Linked DNA regions of Homo sapiens. The protein of the gene in region 1 purifies or fractionates together with the protein of each later gene. This does not show direct contact. Each region holds a gene or a part of one and is shown in the gene's direction. Other genes may lie near its edges.

Region 1 (3,478 bases):
TTTGCTTTAGTACTTTTACTCGAGAAATGCAGAGTAGAAAGTTAAATCAGATTCTAAGGTTCTGTGTCTTAATCAATTTAATGTGTAACTGGATTTCTGTTCAAATATTCTAGAATATAAATGGGATTTAAATGATAACTTGGAATATTAATAATAAAATGTGTTTTATTTTTAAACATTGAATGAGGCCAGGCGCAGTAGCTCACGCCTGTAATCCCAACACTTCAGGAGGCCAAGGCAGGCAGATCACCTGAGATCCAGCCTGGCCAACATGGTGAACCCCGTCTCTACCAGAAATAAAAATTTAGCCGGTTGTGGTGGTGCACGCCTGTAGTCCCAGCTACTGGCAGGTGAATTGCTTGAACCCGGCAGGCAGAGGTTGCAGTGAATTTAGATTGCACCACTGCACTCCACTGTAGGCAACAGAGCGAGAGACTCAAAAAAAAAAATAAATAAATGAATACATAGTGAAAGCAAAATTATAGGCTGAGGCAGGGGAATTGCTTGAGCCCGGGAATTTGAGACCAGCCTGAGCAGCATAGGGAACCTCCACAAAAAATGAGGCAGGAAGCCGGGGAGGTTGAAGCTGCAGTGAGCCAAGTACGCTCCCACCTGAGTCTCCTCCCCCAGAGCAAGACCCCACCTTAAAAGAAAAAATTATAGCCTCTGTCTTAGCCTTTTAAAAGCAAATTTATAATGGCTTATAAAAGCAAATTTCATAAGCCATTTTGGAAAGCCAACACTTTTCAGGCAGTTTCTTGTAATCTCTTAATGCATGCATCGTACACTGAGGGCAGGTAAAATGGATGCCTTGAAAGAGTCCAGAGAATAATTTTAAAGATGTTAATTTAGTATGACAAGGGTATGTGGCTTTTTATTTTTGCCAAAAATTTGGTATTTCGGGGTTTGGGTAGGGAAATGTCAATCATAGTTTAAAAATAAAGATATCTTTGAGAATACTTCCAAAGATAAAAATGAAGTAAAATTGTGACATTTTGGTCCTCCCTTGTCAAAATGTGTAATTTGACAAGTCAAATAATGTAGTTAGTAAGTATTGACCACAGTTGTCATTGATAATGGTATTGAGGTATATGGATGTCTATTTTGTGCATTATTTGGCAATGTTTAAGAAGTTAACAGTTGTCAGTCATTGTCTGAAAGTGAGTCTGTAAGTGTATTGTTCAGCATTTTATCACCCATGAAAACCCTTTTTTTATTTAAAGCATCACTCTATTGAATGGTACTAAAGGTACAAATTTGTTGGGGCTGAGATTTTTTTCTTAGTTTGATTTTTTTTTTTAAGAGCATTTACTTAGGAATGTTCTGTGTTCTAATACTACTTATTTCAGCCACCAGAGAGAACCCTATGCCAGTTTCTAAAAAGGGTGGCAAATCACTTGACCTGCAAGAAACATCTCATTCATGCTCTATGAAAGTTTTTATTTTACTAAATGAATGACATAATTTTTTAAAACTTACAAACTGAATGCGTGTTGTGTTGCCTTTCTGTCTTCACAGAGGAGGAGGTGGAGGAGGAGGAGGATGGAGAGCTGCCCAAGACAGGGATCAGATTTATAGGTATGCCAGGAGAGGACTTAGCATCTGTACAACAGTATAAAGCTTCACATAAAGATGTTTGCCTAGTAATGTTTTGGTAAATTATAAGTGGAATACCCAAAATCAGACTGTTTGAAGCTCATGAAAATATTCTAACGGAAACTAAATGTATAAAGTCTTTGTATATTTATAAAAATTAATTGGTTTTGCAATAGATTATTTAGTGATACCATTTTATACCGTGATGAGGTACAGTGATGTTAGTCACTGATAACTCATTTTTTTTGTCATTATGTTCTTGTATTACATTTTCCTTGCTTTTTAAAAGTAAGCATCTCAAATAGCACAAGAACATTCAAGCCAGCCTTTTTAACACAAAGCTAAATCCTGAAGCACTTGTGAAATTAGTTTTGGGTGTTCAAGAGGGTGCTGTTGGGATTATTTAATGGTATGGGAATTTTCTCATTTTTATTTTTAATTTTTGGAGACAGAGTGTTGCTCTGTTGCCTAGGCTGGAGTACAGTGGAGCAATTTGAGCTCACTGCAGTCTCTGCATCCCGAGTAGCTGGGATTACAAGCATGCACCACCGCACAGAGCTAATTTTTTTTTTTTAGTAGAGACAGGTTTTCACCATGTTGGTCAGGCTGGTCAAACTCCTGGCCTCAAGTGATCCTCCTGCCTTGGCCTCCCAAAGTGCTGGGATTATAGGCGTTGAGCCACCGCACCCAGCCAGGAATTTTCTTTTACAAAACTCTCTTAACATAGTTCACAAAATTTAAAAAGTAAGTAGATTAAAATATAGCAAGGATTATTTGACCTTAAAGTTATTAAGAGTGCTTATTTGACACTTGGGCCTGATAATGTGCTTCATTCTCAAGATTTAAACAGACCTTGAAGGTTCATGCAGCTTTCCTTTTTTGGGGAACTGATGAAAGGGCAGTATATATAGTCATAAATTTATATGTTTGGTCTAATTGTGATCTATTGAGACTTAGACAATCTTGACATTTGTTTATAGAAGGCGGTCACCTTCTCCTTACTATAGTCGTGGAGGATACAGATCACGTTCCAGATCTCGATCATACTCACCTCGTAAGTTTTTATCTTAATATGATTGTTTATATTGTAGTATGGCTTGCTCTGATGACAGTGTATTCCCTTTATCAGATAATGGATTGGTTTCAGGTAGTTTCATACCTAATGATTCTCCACACATCCTGAACATTTTTTGGTTCAAGAAAGTTTGTGGAAACAACCCTTAGAATCCTATTATTTTTTAAGAAGGAAAAATTGGACAGCCTCCTGAGCCAGAGTAGGCTCGGAGACTCCTGTTGTTTCTAACTGAAATAGTAAATAATGTATTTCCACCATTTACCCAGAGTAGGCTCAGAGACTCCTGTTGTTTCTAATTGAAACAGTAAATAATGTATTTCCACCATTTAGTAGCTTTTCAAGAGTCCTTAAAAATTTTTGGACAGCACAGAAACATGGATTACTTAGCCCTTTAGTTCTCAGATTGAGTTATATACTTCCCAGCAATTTCTGTTATTTAAGATTGCTATCTCATTTCTGGTGTAATACTTACATGGAAGTCTTTCTCTATTTGGGGGTGGTGGGGTTCTGGCACATAGGAATTTCTTAATGGCAGAATATTCTGAAATTCTCGGCATTAAAGTATACTTGATAATTAGTTCACTTAATATTAAAGCATGTTCATTCTTTTCTTCCCAGGTCGCTATTAAAGCATGAAGACTTTCTGAAACCTGCCCTAGAGCTGGGATATTGTTTGTGGGCAATATTTTTTATTGTCTCTTGTTTAAAAAGTGAACAGTGCCTAGTGAAGTTAGGTGACTTTTACACCTTTTACGATGACTACTTTTGGTGGAGTTGAAATGCTGTTTTCATTCTGCATTTGTGTAG
Region 2 (3,500 bases), on another chromosome or scaffold:
ACCTCAGGTGATCCGCCTGCCTCGGCCTCCCAAGTGCTGGGATTACAGGCGTGAGCCACCGCGCCTGGCTGGAGCCGAAGTTTTTAAATAGTGGGGTGTAAATCAGAAATTTTTAGAAAAGTACAGGTGATCAACAACAAAAAGCAAATGATTCAAAGCAATTTGAGTAGTCAGGAGATAAATTCGTGTTAAAACAGTATTCCTTTTCTTACCTAGCATATTGGCAAAGATAAAGAAAAATAGCAAATTTTTAACAGAGATTCAAGAAAGATTGGCTTTTTTTTTTTTTTTTTTTTTTTCTGGAGATGGAGTCTCGCTCTGTTGCCAGACTGGAGTGCAGTGGTGTGATCTCGGCTAACTGCAACCTCTGCCTCCCGGATTCAAGCGATTCTCCTGCCTCAGCCTCCCGAGTGGCTGGGACTACAAGTGCACGAGATTGGCACTTTTTAATTCGCTGTTGATGGAAATGTATAAGTTAAAAAAAAACCTTCCTCTGCAATTTTTGTTTTGTTTTGTTTTGTTTTTGAGACAGAGTCTTGCTCTGTCATCCAGGCTGGAGTGCAGCGGCACGATCTCAGCTCACTGCAACCTAAACCTCCAGAGTTCAAGCGATTTTCCTGCCTCCGCCTCCTGAGTAGCTGAGATTACTGGCAACCGCCACCACAACCAGCTAGTTTTTTGTATTTTTAGTTGAGACAGGGTTTCGTCAGGTTGGCCAGGCTGGTGTCAAACTCCTGACCTCAAGTGATCCACCTGTCTCGGCCTCCTAATGTGCTGGACTTAACAGGCATGAGCCACCGTGCCCAGCCCCTCTGGAGTATCTTGATAGTATGTGGGTTTTTTGTTTTTCTTTTTTTTTTTTTTTTAACCGAGTTTCGCTCTTGTTGCCCAGGCTGGAGTGCAGTGGCGCAGTCTCGGCTCAGTGCAACCTCCGCCTCCTGGGTTCAAGTGATTGTCCTGTATTTTTAGTAGAGACGGGGTTTCACCATGTTTTCCAGGCTGGTCTCGAACTCCTGACCTCAGGTGATCCGCCCGCCTAGGCCTCCCAAAGTGCTGGGATTACAGGCGTAAGCCATCGCATCCGGCCCTTCTTTTTTCTTTTTAAGCATTAAAAATGTGCATACTCGGGCATGCGCAGTTTCTGTGGGAAAACATGTTCCTTAACTAAAAGGCAGCACATTTGCAACAAATAATTTTTCCCTCAAACAAGGACACTTGGGATAGGAAGAAGGGCAGAGCTGAGGACAGGTCTGATCCTGTTCAACTTTACTAAGAACCTGTTTTCTGCACTTCTACTTCCACAGCTCAGACAAGAACAGAACCTCTTCTGCTTGGGGGTGGGGCAGGGCTGTCTTGTGCGGAATGGCCTCATTCCTGGATTAGGAAGTGTTCCTAAGTAGTGAGGTGTCTCAGATGTTTATAAAGTGACCACTTGTGTAGTGCTCAGGGCATTGTTGCTTCTGTAAAGTGCGTATCATTTGATCTCATGCTGTAAATGATTCTGTCTTCAGGGCGCAAACCAGAAGAAGAGGGTGTGGAAGATAACGGGCTGGAGGAAAACTCTGGGGATGGACAGGTATGTGCAGCCTTGCGAGTGAGTAGCGTGGTGGATGGACCAGTGGCGGTCACATGATGGTTCGGTCTGGTTGTGTCACAGGAGGATGTTGAGACCAGTCTGGAGAACTTGCAGGACATCGACATCATGGATATCAGTGTGTTGGATGAAGCAGAAATTGATAATGGAAGCGTTGCAGATTGTGTCGAAGACGATGATGCTGATAACCTCCAGGAGTCCCTGTCGGATAGTAGAGAGCTAGTCGAGGGGGAAATGAAAGAGCTTCCGGAGCAGCTTCAGGAACATGCTGTAGGTAACCGGCAATGTCTCTAGAATGTGCCCTGAATGTATCAGTTCCACAATTAAAATAGGTGATCAGTTTCATATTGGGAAGTAAGTTGTTCTGTAATGCCAGTTCAGTAGAATAAGGGTCAGTTGGTTCAGATGATTCTGAACCAATTTGTTTTGTTGAAAGGTGATGTCTTATAACATTTCATATGTACTTGCTATCCATTTGCGGCATACAGTATGAGACATTTTGAGGACAACCATTCAGACTCTTCCTGTTGCCGGACTTGATCTGTGGTGTTATGGCCTAGGTACCTTGAAAGCATTGAACTAGGAAGAGGTTAGAAGTTGGTGTTTTCCTGTTAAGAAGCAATTGTTGAGCTGGGTGCCTTGATGCACTCATGTAATCCGGTAACTCAGAAAGCTGAGGTGGAAGGAGCAGCCCAGGAGTTCAAGGCTGTACTAAGCTATGATTGTGCAATTGAAGTCCAGCCTGGGTGGCAGAGTCTGACAGAACCCTATCTCTTGTTTAAAACAAACAAACAAAAAAAAAAACACAGCCAGTTGATACCTATCTTAAGAGTTAACCTCAAGTATTAACCTGGATGTTGTTTTTAAACCTAAATTTTTTTCCTGTTAGAAACATATCAAATGGATAGTAAGATTATAGTGGGTAGTATTTCCTGAATACTACCTACCAGGCATTGGCATTATGCCCTTCCTTTCTTTTTTTTTTTTTTTTTTTTTTTTTTCTGAGACAGAGTTTTGCTGTTGTTGCCCAGGCTGGAGTGCAGTGGCGCGATCTCAGCTCACTGCAACCTCTGCCCCCTGGGTTCAAGTGATCTCCTCCCTCAGCCTCCCAAGTGAGTAGCTGGGATTATAGGCGCCCACCACCAAGCCCGACTAATTTTCTTGTATCTTTAGTAGAGACGGTTTTCACCATGTTGGCCAGGCTGGTTTTGAACTCTTGACCTCAGGTGATCCGCCTGCCTCAGACTCCCAAAGTGCTGAGATTACAGGTGTGAGCCACCGCGCCCAGCATGTGCCCTTTAATTCTTCTAATAGCAACATGAGGTGCTGTTGTCCCCATTTTCAGTTGAGGAAATTGGGAAGGCAAGAACTAAAAAACATCTCCAGATGACACACAGCTCATAACAGAATAAGAACTAAGATCAGGCTAATTCCAGAGGCCATGTACTTAACTTATGTACGATGTTGTCTTGGTGCCATTAATTTGATATTAATTTCATTTACCTGATGATTAATGTTTGTCAGACAGAAAAAGTGATGCATATGAGAAGCTGTGGGGCCCTTTCTGTGTTGGCTCGTGGGGGGCCCTGTTCTTGTCCTGGTCCTTAGGTCTTCCGCAGTGAGTGCTTCTCAAGCAGTCTTGGTGGACAGAAACCTTGTTGTATGCCAGTCAATCCGCTTCTGCATTTCTTCAGAATATTTTTGCATTTCCTCTTGGAACTGATTCCAAGTATCCTTAGAGGTAGCAGATTGTCATATTTGAATGGAGGATTTGAGTCTGAGAAGTGGCTGAGAGTTATTCTGATACAAATAGGGTGTGCAATTTTTGGTGAGTCCCATTCATCAGCTTCTAAAAAGGAGTAGCAGAAACACTTGCACAGCAGCAGGAGTTACTTACCCTTCCTGA
Region 3 (3,500 bases), on another chromosome or scaffold:
TTAAATGGTCTCCCCACAAAAATGACAAGTATGTGAGGTGACAGATATGTTAATGAGCTTGATTTAATCACTTCACAAAGTATACATGTATCTAAACTTTGCATTGTATACCATAAGTATAATTTTTTGTCAATTAACAAAACTGGGGGACAATAAAAAAGGAAAAAAATACCCAGTTGGAATCCTGGGATTGGAACTTGATTGAGAGGCCAGAGCTGGATATACACACTGTATCCAAAGAGCGGTTATAGCTGAGATTGGAAATGGATTAGATTGGCAAAGATGACAGAGGAAAATTGGAAGATTCAATAGAGGGTTGAAAATCATGAGAGTATAGTTTCACACAAATTAGGGAAGGGAAACTGTTTCAAGGAGGGATTAGTAAACACTTCAAACTTGTGCAGAGAAGTTTGGAGGATAAGGACCGTATAAAGGCCAGTGGTGGGAAAGAACTATCAGCGGCCCAGTGTTACTTTTAAATAGCAAGAAGCGTTCATGCATTTTAACTTTTCCAGCTTGCCCTACAGTGTAGGTGAGAAGGAGTCAAAATAGCTGGCAGTAATCCTAAAATTATTCTGATGTTTTCAGCCATAAGTTTAAATTTGATGCAGAAAAGAATAGGGAGGGGTCAGTGGAAGATTACTAGGAACTGACAGAAATGATCACCATAGAAATGTCTTTATCCTTATTCTTGGGTTTGTCTCATTCTAATGAATAGTTTATAAATGCTTCATTTGAATCTATAGAAATGATTCAAATAATCTGTTTGTTTTTGTTGCTGTTGTTATTCGGTGAAAATAACTTCTAAATTTGAATTTGGGACTACTGACGTTTTCAGTTTCTGCAAAGTTACTGAGCCCAGATTGTCCGCTGTTCTTAAACCTTATAACAATGCTGAATGGTAGTTACGGATAATTATTTTATTAGTGAGGAAATTGAGACTCAGGGAGTTAAGTCCTTTGGCTAAGGTCACCTAACTAATTATTGCTAGAGCCTGAATTTGAACATAGAATCTTATAGCTCAAAAAACCTCTATTAATGGACCTGCATCAAAGTTTGTTACTATCAAGAGATCAAAAGTTGTTTGATGGGCATGGTGGTTCATGCTTGTAATCCGAGGACTTTGGGAGGCTGAGGTGGGAGGATTGCTTGAGACCAGGAGTTTGAGACCTGCCTGGGTAACACATTGAGACACCATCTATTTATGTCTGTTTCAGAGATCACTTAAAGTTGTCCTCAAGGAATTTCAAACAATTTATTAGTGGCTGCCATATAGCAAGCGCTTATGTTCGGTGCCAGCAATGTGGCAGGTCTATATGACAAAATCTATTCTGCTCTTATGGAGTTTATGCATTCTGGTATATTCTCTACAGGTATAAACACTGAAAAGGCTTAGCGGTTTCTTCAGAGATGAAGAAAGGAGATGACGTAGAAAAATATATCAGTTTCACAAACTGAGGGTTGCTGTGAGGGACTTACTAAAAAACTGAAAGCAGTGCAGGCCTCAGCTGTAGGCAGTGAGCAGTGCTTATTGCTTCATGAACTAAGCGACTTCAGCTCCTTTACTTCCCTAAATCTTTCTTATGTACTCCTTTCTTCTGAAATGTTAAGATTTCCCTTGACAAAAAAAGGACAAATCCTAGTTCCCCCGCCTGCTGTTCCCGAAGGTGTATTGTGTTACACAGGCTGGGACGGCAGTATCCCCAAGGAGTTGAGGAATAAAAAGCTTTGGGAATCATTTGCTTGCACTGACCTTTATTTCTCAGATAGGTAGATGCTGTTGCAATTCATTGTTACCTACCCTGCCACTGGGAACATTAAAATAAGTAGATGAGTGAGACATTTTATCCCTGGATTGTCATTTGTCTGTAATCTTTAAAAAAATCAGTCCATTGGCTGGGCGTGGTGGCTCACGCCTGTAATCCTAGCATTTTGGGAGGCCGAGGCGGGTGGATCACGAGGTCAGGAGATCGAGACCATCCCAGCTAACACGGTGAAACCCCGTCTCTACTAAAAATACAAAAAATTAGCAGGGCGTGGTGACGGGCACCTGTAGTCCCAGCTACTCGGGAGGCTGAGGCAGGGGAATGGCATGAACCCAGGAGGCGGAGCTTGCAGTGAGCCGAGATCTCGCCACTGCACCCCAGCCTGGGTGACAGAGCAAGACTCTGTCTAAAAAAAAAAAAAATCAGTCCCATTGTCTGGTTTGACTTGTATTTCACATCTGTGCATATGCTTTTGAATGGAAAACACTGATGTTAATGAAAAGAAGGCTAAAGAATAGAATTCACTAGGATACACTGTATGTTAGTCCTTTTTCACACTGCTGATACAGACACACCCGAGACTGGGAAGAAAAAGAGGTTTAATTGGACTTACAGTTCTGTGTGTGGCTGTGGAGGCCCCAGAATCATGGCAGGAGGCGAAAGGCACTTATTACGTGGTGGCGGCAAGAGAAAATGAGAGACATGCAAAAGCAGAAACCCCTGATAAAACCATCAGATCTCATGAGATTTATTCACTACCATGAGAACAGTATTGGGGAAACCACCTCCATGATTCAAATTATCTCCCACTGGGTCCTTCCCACAACATGTGGAAATTATGGGAGTACGACTCAAGATGAGATTGGGTGGGGACACAGCCAAACCATATCACACTGTTGTCTGATCTGGCATGGCAGATCCTGGTTTAACTGATTAATGTTTAAGAGGTGGATCTTACAGGTCTGTTCTACTTGATCAGTGACATTGAACGCCACTGATCACTCTTCTTTCTTGAAGCTGCCTTCCTCCTTAATTTCAAGACAGCATTTTCTTCTGTCTTTCTAGCTGTTCTTTCTCAGTCTCTTCTTCTGGTTCTTTTCCCTTTGCCTTACAATATTGATTCTGTCTTTACCCTTTTTTCTTACTCTGAAATACTACATAACATTTCTCATTCAGTCCTCAAGCTTAAACCCTGTCTGCATCAGTGAGTCTGTATTCTTCAGAATCATCTATGGAGCTTTTTTTTTTTTTTTAAATAGAGATTTCTAGGTCCCAGCCAAGACCTACTGAATCAGAATTTCCAGGCATGGGACCGGGCATATATATATATGTAAGTCTCATCGATTATTCTGAAGCATCTGCCCCTGAGGAAGTACCAGTGGTAGGATACTCATGGCTCCCATGTCTGTTCTAACCCCCACTTTTTTCCTGAGCTCCAAACAAGTATGTCCAGCTGGTTTTTAGACATACCTCCAAATAATTATGCCCAACTGGTTTTTAGACATATCTCTAAACAAGTATGTCCAACTGGTTTTTAGACATATCTCTTTGAGTTTACTATAGGAATCTTAAGTTCCAAGTTCCCTGTGTGGAAACCAAAGTCCTTATTTTCCTCACCAGGACTAATTTTTCTGTTGCCTATATTGCAGTTTTTGGCTTTTGAGTGTCCCGTACTAAAAATGTGTGAGTCACCCACATTTCCTTTTGTTAGTTTCTGAATCTCATTCCTGTGCT
Region 4 (3,500 bases), on another chromosome or scaffold:
AGATACGTTGGCTGGTGATTAGAGTATTTCTTTGAGCTGCTGGAATTCAGAAACAAGCAGCTAGCAATGTGTCAGAGTACTAACATTTTGTGTTCATAAGGAATTTTTAAAAATGTGTTCAGAATTGGGAAGTATAAAATGAGGTTCTTAAGTCCATTAGGCATTAAAACCACATCCACACACGTTAATACTCTTGTTTATCCATTCCGAGATTTCTCTGTTGAAATTTTTAGGGGTTTCCTTTACTCTAGGGAAGCAGCAGGGTCGGGCCTTTGACTGATAGTAGTAGACTTGCTTGTGTGTTCCTGGCTTGGACAGGGAACAAGGGCAGGTGGCTCACCGTCCTGGGGGCCTAAGTGCAGAGCCTAACCACCCTCTGTGACCCCGAGTTAGTGCCCAGGTAGATTTGCCCCAGTAGCATGTGCTCTCTGCCTTTTTTTCCCTGCTTCCCTTCATGTTTGAAGGTCCTGCAAGGATAACATGCCCTCAGCCTGTGAACCAAAACAATCTGGTTATAAACCATCTTGCACTTGTTTCCATGTGGAGGGAGGAGCTAGGACGTGGGGGTGAGTTGGAAGCAGCAAGGTATGCTCACCTGGTGCTCTTCTGGTTCCTGCTGACAGTGCTCCTGTAGAAAGGACATGGTGAAGATCTCCATGGATGTGTTTGTGAGAAAGTTCCAGCCAGAAAGGTACAAACTTTGGAAAGCTGGGAAGGACAACACAGTTATTGACCATACTCTGCCCACGCCAGAAGCAGCTGAGTTTCTTAAGGAGAGTGAACTGCCTCCAAGAGCTGGCAACGAGGAGGAGTGCCCAGAGGAGGACATGGAAGGGGTGGAGGATGGAGAGGAAGGAGACCTGAAGACAAGGTAACCCAGCAGCCCTTTTGTCCTGGCTGCGTGAGGGAGGGATGTCTGGGTAGGTCCTGTAATCTGTGGAGAGGCTGTTTCTTGTTTTTTTTGTTTTGTTTTGTTTTTGTTTTTGTTTTTGTTTTTGATGGAGTCTCGCTCTGTCGCCCAGGCTGGAGTGCAGTGGTGCGATCTCGGCTCACTGCAAGCCCCGCCTCCCGGGTTCAGGCCATTCTTCTGCCTCAGCCTCCCGAGTAGCTGGGACTACAGGCACCTACAGCCACGCCTGGCTAATTTTTTGTATTTTTAGTAGAGACAGGGTTTCACTGTGTTAGCCAGGACGGTCTCGATCTCCTGACCTCGTGATCCGCCCACCTCGGCCTCCCAAAGTGCTGGGATTACAGGTGTGAGCCACCGCGCCCGGCCGAGGCTGTTTCTAAGATGCCGTTTGTGCCTTGGCTAAGGGAGTGTTCTTGGTAAAGGCTCCAGAAACCTGAGAGCCAGAGCATTCAGGCACTTTCTGAATGAGAGACCTGTAGTGGGCGTGTAGTCTGCTGGAGCAAGGCGTCAGTTATATGAGGGTCGGGGGCATTTATGTGCGAAGGTCGGGCTCCCTCTGAGCCAGAAAAGTCATGTTTTCTCATCATATCAGAGAGTCTTTTAAAAAGAAGTGTAGTGAGGATGAGACTCAAGGGCATTGGTAATGTCGTGATTTAAGTCTGCAGTGCTATTGGTGGCTGAGCCAGGGGATCTGTGCTCTGAGGAGAATTTATCCTGGGCCATATGGGAAAGAAAGGAGGAACCGTTCCTTGGTACCTGCTATATGCCAGGCACTTTGCCAGCTACTCTGCATACCTTTTCTTAATCCTCACAACAAATCTGTTAGGTGGGTGGTAATACCTGTATTTTCCAGATGATTGAACAAGGTCAGAGAGGTGAAGTCCCTTGTCTCAAGTCACAAATAAGAGGTGTCCCTGAGTTTTGAGCCAGGCCTGACAGGCTCTGGCCATTCACTTTGGGTTGTGTGTGGATGTGTATGAATGTGTTTGAGTAAGTGGATGTATATGTGGGCTCTTAAAAGATTTGCCCTCTCCCTTGCAGCCTGGCCAAGCACCGAATAGGGACAAAGAGGCACCGAGTTTGTCTTGAAATACCACAGGAGGTGAGTCAGAGTGAGCTCTTCCCCAAGGAGGATCTGAGTTCTGAGCAGTATGAGATGACGGAGTGCCCGGCAGCCCTCGCCCCTGTGAGGCCCACCCATAGCTCTGTGCGGCAAGTTGAGGATGGTCTTACCTTCCCAGGTTAGTTGACTATGGTGTATTTTCCACAACCCTAACTCATATATGTGTCCCGTGTTAGATGCCATATTGAGTGCTGGGTCAGAAATAAAAAAGGCAGAGTGACAGGTCCGTGAGCAGATAGCATACTTGGAGTGTGAGAAGTGCTTTGGGTAGGGATGTACAGGGAGGACTGGACACGTAGGGAAAAGCTCCTCCCTCTGCCTGGTCAGGGGTCAGGGAAACACTGGAGGTTTTGGTGAAGGTGACTCTTACAAGGTAAGTAGGACCTTCCCAGGCGGACAGAGAGAGAGGAGGGATGTAGAAAGGGAGTCCCAGATGGGAGGAGCAGGGCACAGGCATGGAGATGGGAATTTTTTTTTTTTTTTTTGAAATGGAGTCTTGCTCTGTCATGCAGGCTGGAGTGCAGGGGCGCAATCTTGGCTCACTGCAACTTCTGCCTCCTGGGTTCAAGCGATTCTCCTGCCTCAGCCTTCCAACTAGCTAGGACTACAGGTGCCTGCCACCATGCCTGGCTAATTTTTTTTTGTATTTTTAGTAGCGATGGGGTTTCACCGTGTTGGCCAGGCTGATCTTGAACTCCTGACCTCAGGTGATCCGCCTGCCTCGGCCTCCCAAAATGCCAAGTGGGATTACAGGCGTGAGCCACTGTTCCCAGCAGAGATGGGAAATATTAATAGCATGGTCCACTTGGGGGAACTGGTGGGGAGTTTCCCTCAATTGAATATTAGGGTGGAAGGCAGCTGTGTGACCAGAAGGTGACGCTGGAGAAATAGGAGATGATGTAGGGCTGTCTGCCATTTTCATTTGCTCACTTGGAAGCTTAAGAAGCCATTTATATTTTAAGAGAGGGAGTGGTGTGATCAGTGCTGTTTAGCAGTCACTTGGAAGGTCATTGAGGCTAGATTTGTTAGAGAAAGGCTTGTATCTGTCTTGGGTCAGGTATGACCCAAAGATGTGGTCTGCCGACAGCCAGGCAGCACTGTGGACTGACACCCTGGGCTGGGCTGGCTTCTCTTCAGCAGATTTTCTTTCCCTTTTTTCTCTTCAAATTTATTTATTTATATTGACAGATAAAATCGTGCATATTTGTCTTGTACAACATAATTTTTTTGTTTGTTTTAGAAACGGGGTCTTACTGTGTTGCCCAAGCCTTTGTGAACACAGCTCACTGCAGCCTCAACTTTCTGGGCTCAAGCAATCCTCTTGCCTCAGCCTCTCAAGTAGGTGGGACTACAGGCATACACCACGCCTGGCTAATTTTTTTTTTTTTTTTTTTTTTTTTGAGACGGAGTCTCACTCTGTCTCCCAGGCTGGAGTGCAAAGGCATGATCTTGGCTCACTGCAACCTC
Region 5 (3,500 bases), on another chromosome or scaffold:
TAGCTGGGGCAGCATGGGATCCCATCCCACCAACAAGGGCCCTCTCTATTGAGCATGTAGCTGTCCTGGTGCTCCACATGGGTGGTCCAATTTGAATTTTTACAACAGCATGTGAAGCCAGTGGTGTTACTGTCCTCATTACAGAGATGAAATACCTAGGAAACTAGGGCCTATGCCTTCCGCTTTATATAAGGTTTAACAAAAACAGGCCGGGCATGGTGGCTCACGCCTGTAATCCCAGCACTTTGGGAGGCGGATCCCCTGAGGTCAGGAGTTCGAGACCAGCCTGACCAACACGGTGAAACCCTGTCTCTACTAAAAAACAAAAATTAGCCATGCGTGGTGGCGTGCACCTGTAGTCTCAGCTGCTCAGGAGGCTGAGGTGGTAGAATTGCTTGAACCCAGGAGCCAGAGGTTGCAGTGAGCTGAGATTGTGCCATTGCACTGTAGCCTGGGCGACAGAGAGAGTCTCTGTCTCAAAAAAAAAAAAAAAAAAAAAAAAAAAAAAAAAAAATATATATATATATATATATATATATATAAATAAAAAAATTAACAAAAACAAAGCCCCAAAGAGGCCAAGGAAGTTTGTCCTCAGTTGCCGTGCTCTCTCTTGGGGTGGGATGTGACAATGGAATTGGAAATAGAACCTGGAAGTCCAAGGTCCCCAACTAGGAAATTGGCAGAGTTGTCATTAAAATCCAGGCCTTAGACTTGGATTGCTATGTCAGCCTATGTCTTCACTGCTAACACGACCTGTGTCTTTAATCCTCCACCCTGTACTCGAGGTCCAGGGAACCTCCTGGAGAACCTAGGGCTGGCTGCCTAGAATAGGCCCTTCTTGGCCAGGCGTGGTGGCTCATGCCTATAATCCTAGCACTTTGGGAGACTGAGGAGGGCAGATCACTTGAGGTCAGGAGTTCAAGACCAGCCTGGCCAACATGGTGAAACCCCATCTCTACTAAAAATACAAAAATTTGCCAGGCACACGCCTGTAATCCCGGCTACTTGGGAGGCTGAGGCAGAAGAATCACTTGAACCCAGGAGGCAGAGGTTGCAGTGAGCTGAGATCGTACCGCTGCACTCCAGCCTGGATGACAGAGTGAGACCCTGTTTCAAAAGAAAAAAAAAAAAAGCCCTTCTTCCCCTATAACTCAAAGTGCAAGAGCCTTTTTGTGACATCTCTCCTCCTATGGTGTGCCAGCCAAACCACGGTTTGCAACCTGGCTTCGTTCCCAACCCACAAGTCACTGGGGCTCTCTGTACTGAGTTTCCTCATCTACAAAAAGAAAATCAGCATCTCCCAGGAGAGTCAGTCTTCATGGCAGTTAACTGAGATTGCACCCATAAGGCCCTGGCATGCAGCCTGTGTAGTTCTCAATTGGAAGGCTCCTTATTTTTTTGTTTTTGTTTTTTTTTTTTTGAGATGGAGTCTCACTCTTGTCCGCCCAGGCTGGAGTGCAGTGGGCACGATCTCGGCTCACTGCAACCTCTGGCTCCTGGGTTCAGGCGACTCTCTTGCTTCAGCTTCCAGAGTAGCTGGGATCACAGGCATGTGCCACCACATCTGGCTAATTTTTGTATTTTCAGTAGAGATGGGGTTTCACCATGTTGGTCAGGCTGGTCTCGAACTCCTGACCAAAAGTGACCTACCCACCTTGGCCTCCCAAAGTGCTGGGATTACAGGCGTGAGCCACCACGCCCGGCCGGGGCCTTATTTTGGTCCAAAGCATTGAGCCTAGCAATGTGGCATAGAGGAAGGACCTCCCTTCAGTGGCCCCTGCCTGGGTCCCCCTGCTCAGGTCAAGATGCAAAAAGGTGAGCGCCAGATGGCCAAAAGGTTCCTGGAGGAACGGAAGGAAGAGCTGGAGGAGGTGGCCCACGAACTGGCTGAGACTGAGCACGAGAACACGGTGTTGAGGCACAACATCGAGCGCATGAAGGAGGAGAAGGACTTCACCATGTAAGGTGGCTCCTGCTCTGTCCCCGCTGATCTATTCCTCCCTACCAGGCTGCCTTGAGCCCTGGGCAATAATGGAAAGCAACGTAGGAGGTGGGCACAGGCACTGTGCCTGTGCCCTGGAGCCTGTTCAACAGTCACACAATTAATTACAGTTAATTACCTGGTTGTGCTTATGATTTGTACTATGAGGGAAAGGGAGGACCCCGTGGATTGTGGTGTGGGACTGGGTAGCAGGGAACTGTTTCTGGAACAAGTGATATTTAAGGGGTGTCCTGCAGGATGGTTAAGCATTCGGCAGGTGGGTGCTAGGGAAGAAAGCACGCTACTCAGTGGGAACATCTTATGCGAAGGCCCCAAGGTGGGAAAGTGTTTGTAGCTGAGAAATGGAAGGCAGGCCAGAGTGGGTGGGCAGAGGATAAGGGGGCCACATAGGTTGGCAGGGGGCTGGCTCTCAGCAGCCACTTTGAGGCATTTGCATTGAGGGCATTTGGAAGCCATGGAAAGGATTTATTTTATTTAATTAATTTATTTGGCCGGGCGTGGTGGCTCACGCCTGTAATCCCAGCCCTTTGGGAGCCAAGGCGGGCAAATCACAAGGTCAGGAGTTCGAGACCAGCCTGGCCAACATGGTGAAACCCTGTCTCTACTAAAAATACAAAAATTAAGCCGGGCGTCGCGGCGGGCGCCTATAATCCTAGCTACTCTGGAGGCTGAGGCAGGAGAACTGCTTGATCCTGGGAGGCATCTCAAAATTTTTGAGATGGAGTCTCGCTCTGTCATCCAGGCTGGAGTGCAGTGGCGTGATCCTGGCTCACTGCAATGTCCGCCTCCTTGACTAAAGTAATCCTCCTGCCTCAGCCTCCCAAGTAACTGGAATTACAGGTGCCCACTACCATGCCCGGCTAACTTTTGTATTTTTAGTAGAGATGGGGTTTTAGCTGTTGGCCAGGCTGCTCTCGATAACACCTGATCTCAAGTGATCTGCCCACCTCGGCTTCCCAAAGTGCTGGGATTACAGGCTTTAGCCACTGTATCCAGCCTACAGCCATGGAAGTTTTAAAAGCAGGGAGGTGGCCTGACTAGCCTTGGCTGCAGTGTAGAGAAGAGGTAGAAGGGCTCAAAATCGTATCTGAAGATGGTGCGTAGGAGGGCGTGACAGTGGAGGGGGGCAGTGCAGAGATGACAATGGTGGCTGTTTGAGAGAAACAGGGCCACAGGTAGCTAATGTCTCCTGGTGTGGAGGCCCTGGTCTGGTGCCCAGGCAGATGTAACTTCTGGCCCTGGTCCTTTCTGAAGGCCACCCAGGCCAGAAGGGCTGTCCCTGCCCCCTCCCCTACTTTTCCCTGACCAGAGGTGAGCCCCCTAGGGCATTGTGAGGCAAGCCTTGGATCTCTGGGCATGCGGGGGCCTGGGAGGGCTCACAGAGCCGTCTTTCTGGCCCCAGACTTCAGAAGAAACACCTACAACAGGAGAAGGAGTGCCTCATGTCCAAGCTGGTGGAGGCGGAAATGGATGGGGCTGCGGCTGCCAAGCAGGT
Region 6 (2,907 bases), on another chromosome or scaffold:
TAGATGATTAAATGAAGACAAGCTGGATTGATTTGAACTGAACTTCAGGTGAAGTGGGACCTTAGCGAGGTGGAAGGCTGGAGATAGAAGCACCAAGTCCAGATAGAGACATGGAGATGACAGAGGATTTATTTTAGAATTATCTTAGGTTTCATGTTTCATAAGTTGGACAGACTCTGAAAGTTCGTAGAAGACTTTTCTATATATTTTTGAATATGGAAGACAAGTTATCAAAAATGAGAAGAAATAAACCCACTTCTGTTTTTTCAGATGTAGAAAATGTATAGAGATGGTGAGAGACTGTCCATTTGTGAGGTAAAGAAGGTGTAAAGAGAGCACATGTGTGTTTATTTTTTATTAGACAAGCTTTTGTTTTGTAGTAATGATGGGAATTCATATTTTACAGAAGAAAAATCAAAGTACTAAACATTTAGAACCCTTGTTTCTGATACTTATCTCCCATGCTGCCCTCCCTTTATTCAGTATGTGCATTTCTTACCCACTAACTGTGTATGAACCAGATAGCCATCAGCTGCCTGGATTATGTGACAGACACAGTGGCAGTCATTTGTACTGTATTTCTTTTCACCCTGGGAATCAAGATCTAAATCTACCAGAAATAGTTATTACTAAAAAACCAAGGATGCGATTTGTGACACTGTAGCCTCATCTGCTGGGTAACTGCATGCTTCTAGGGCCACTTCATTCTCTGTCATATTTTGTGTATCATAATTTCAGTGGCTACTTTATTTCTACAGTTCCTCTTGCCCATCCTCCTCAAGGAGAAAGCCTTTTTGGCAGGCTCAGGTTAGTGGCTGGCAACTAATTAGGTGACTGGCAACTAAAATTTCTTATCTGTTGCAAGAGTATCTCCTATTTATAATGGTTATCCAGTTGTTTATGTACAAATAAACGTTTTTATAAGATACTTTAAGAAAAGAAGTTATTTTTCTTTAAAAAGGAGTTCTGTTCTTTTTAAAATGGAATCTGACAGGATCTTTTGTTTTTAAGAAGTTTCATTCTTTTTTTAAGCAAAAACTACAGCTTGGAGTTTTTTAAATACATAGTGAATGTTTTGACCAAATACATGTAATTTTACTTAAACTATTTTAACAATGACTTTTCTAAGTGGAAGACCCTAATAGAAATTGACATGTCCTAGTCAGTGATATGGACTGAGAACTTGATAACAAATCCCACTGCTGGCTACTAAGAAGCTTTATCGGGTTTAATAGGGAAAAGCCTTGTACTGATACATATTGTTCATGTTTACATGTAAATGTGTACTTGTATACATAGTGTGTACTTACATGCATTACATGCATATTATGTGTGTCAAGTAAGTCACGTGTGTCCTGACTTTAATGACTCAGTGCTCATGTCTGAGGTGTTCCTTTGAGCTCTGAGGTGATGTGCATAAAAGTTTTAGTCTGCTCCCAGGTGAACCAGGTTAAATATGAGGGCTCTGGTTTAAAGCAAGGACCAGACTGCATCCTGAGGGCTTCCGTGTGCCCCTGGGATTGTGAGATAATCACATCCACATACTAACAGTCAAGTAGAGAGAAGGAAGTTGGATGGAATGAGGGGAGGACTCAGGGCTGACCCCTCTTCCAGACACCACAGAGTTTCTCTCTGTATACAAAGCCTCTGTACACATTACAAGATTCCACTTGGCCCTGTTGGAGGAATGGCTGCCGTGGCTTTCTTAATGAGCCTTGTGGATATAGCTCTGATATTACACTGTGGGTGTTGAACATGTCAGTCAGACTGGGTAGGGGTTCCTTACAGACAAAGGCCTCATCTAATTAACAGCTGCTTCACTCCACTCATTGCTTCTTTCTACTGGATCTTAACAAATGTTTATTGGGTTAAATTATAGATGATAGATGATGAAATGATACATAGTATACATAATCTTGGGATATTATTAAAGCAGAATTTTGTCTTTTCAGCAAACCATTCCTCAAGCAACTGCAGCAAAATATCCCCGGACCATTCATCCTGAAAGTAGTACCTCAGCTTCCAGATCACTTGGAACCAGATCAGCTCACACCCAGTCTCTCACAAGTGTTCATTCCATAAAAGTGGTTGACTAAAGTGAATATGTCCATAGTGGGGTCTTTTAATCCCTCTGGTCTTACCAAGGGTTAGAAGTCTTTTGGTTTTAACTTTTCCATATTGTTAGAACATCATGGAGACATCATGTTCATCTGTTCAAAATTACAAGAGGCTTTTTCAAGCTCTACCATGCTTTGTAACTATATGTAGAAATTATTTTAATGTTATTTTTTATTTAAGCAATTAAGTAAAACTTTTTTAAATTAAAAAAGAAACTGGACTTTATTTCTTTAATATGTTTAGCCTGTTGCTGATTACAGCATCAAAATATATAAATTTATTTTCACTATTTATAAAACACTAAATCATTTCCAATATTACACAGCTGTAATTCACTCAAAGTGTTGAGAGGGAACCTTACTAAAAACAAAGTATTAGAACTAGTGGAAACTAGGATATTTTTATTTTTAATTTAAAAAAGACCAAGTGTAATAATGATTTTTTTTTTTTTTTTTTTTGAGACAGAGTCTCGCTCTGTCACCCAGGTTGGAATGCAATGGTGTGACCTCGGCTCACTGCCTCCTCCTCCCATGTTCAAGCAATTCTCCTGCCCCAGCCTCCCGAGTATCTGGGATTACAAGTGCCAGCCACCATGCCCGGCTAATTTTTGTATCTTTTTTTAGTAGAGACAAGGTTTCATCATGTTGGCCAGGCTGGTCCCGAATTCCTGACCTCAAGTGATCCGCCCGCCTGAGCCTCCCAAAGTGCTGGGATTACAGGCATGAGCCACCACGCGCGGCCCCGTTTTTTGTGGCTTTAACATGTTAGTCTTCATTTTTCCAGGACTCT

The links.
Region 2: the proteins of TRA2B (region 1) and SAFB fractionate together in Homo sapiens (co-fractionation; one large-scale study listed by BioGRID). This does not show direct contact.
Region 3: the proteins of TRA2B (region 1) and DDX47 fractionate together in Homo sapiens (co-fractionation; one large-scale study listed by BioGRID). This does not show direct contact.
Region 4: the proteins of TRA2B (region 1) and KDM4A purify together in Homo sapiens (affinity purification with mass spectrometry; one large-scale study listed by BioGRID and IntAct). This does not show direct contact.
Region 5: the proteins of TRA2B (region 1) and ODF2 purify together in Homo sapiens (co-immunoprecipitation; one large-scale study listed by IntAct). This does not show direct contact.
Region 6: the proteins of TRA2B (region 1) and POC5 purify together in Homo sapiens (co-immunoprecipitation; one large-scale study listed by IntAct). This does not show direct contact.

What each region holds. Positions count from the first base shown.
Region 1 is NC_000003.12:185,917,537-185,921,014, reverse strand, and holds part of TRA2B (transformer-2 protein homolog beta), read left to right. Parts: intron 1-1,518; coding exon 1,519-1,578; intron 1,579-2,576; coding exon 2,577-2,650; intron 2,651-3,289; coding exon 3,290-3,300; 3' UTR 3,301-3,478. UniProt on the Homo sapiens protein: Sequence-specific RNA-binding protein which participates in the control of pre-mRNA splicing. Can either activate or suppress exon inclusion. Acts additively with RBMX to promote exon 7 inclusion of the survival motor neuron SMN2.
Region 2 is NC_000019.10:5,640,083-5,643,582, forward strand, and holds part of SAFB (scaffold attachment factor B1), read left to right. Parts: intron 1-1,511; coding exon 1,512-1,576; intron 1,577-1,657; coding exon 1,658-1,864; intron 1,865-3,500. UniProt on the Homo sapiens protein: Binds to scaffold/matrix attachment region (S/MAR) DNA and forms a molecular assembly point to allow the formation of a 'transcriptosomal' complex (consisting of SR proteins and RNA polymerase II) coupling transcription and RNA processing.
Region 3 is NC_000012.12:12,816,346-12,819,845, forward strand, and holds part of DDX47 (probable ATP-dependent RNA helicase DDX47), read left to right. Parts: intron 1-3,500. UniProt on the Homo sapiens protein: Required for efficient ribosome biogenesis. May have a role in mRNA splicing. Involved in apoptosis.
Region 4 is NC_000001.11:43,667,149-43,670,648, forward strand, and holds part of KDM4A (lysine-specific demethylase 4A), read left to right. Parts: intron 1-595; exon of another isoform or gene 596-623; coding exon 624-871; intron 872-1,951; coding exon 1,952-2,151; intron 2,152-3,500. UniProt on the Homo sapiens protein: Histone demethylase that specifically demethylates 'Lys-9' and 'Lys-36' residues of histone H3, thereby playing a central role in histone code. Does not demethylate histone H3 'Lys-4', H3 'Lys-27' nor H4 'Lys-20'.
Region 5 is NC_000009.12:128,469,506-128,473,005, forward strand, and holds part of ODF2 (outer dense fiber protein 2), read left to right. Parts: intron 1-1,802; coding exon 1,803-1,963; intron 1,964-3,407; coding exon 3,408-3,500. UniProt on the Homo sapiens protein: Seems to be a major component of sperm tail outer dense fibers (ODF).
Region 6 is NC_000005.10:75,673,624-75,676,530, reverse strand, and holds the end of POC5 (centrosomal protein POC5), read left to right. Parts: intron 1-1,952; coding exon 1,953-2,096; 3' UTR 2,097-2,407; downstream 2,408-2,907. UniProt on the Homo sapiens protein: Essential for the assembly of the distal half of centrioles, required for centriole elongation. Acts as a negative regulator of centriole elongation.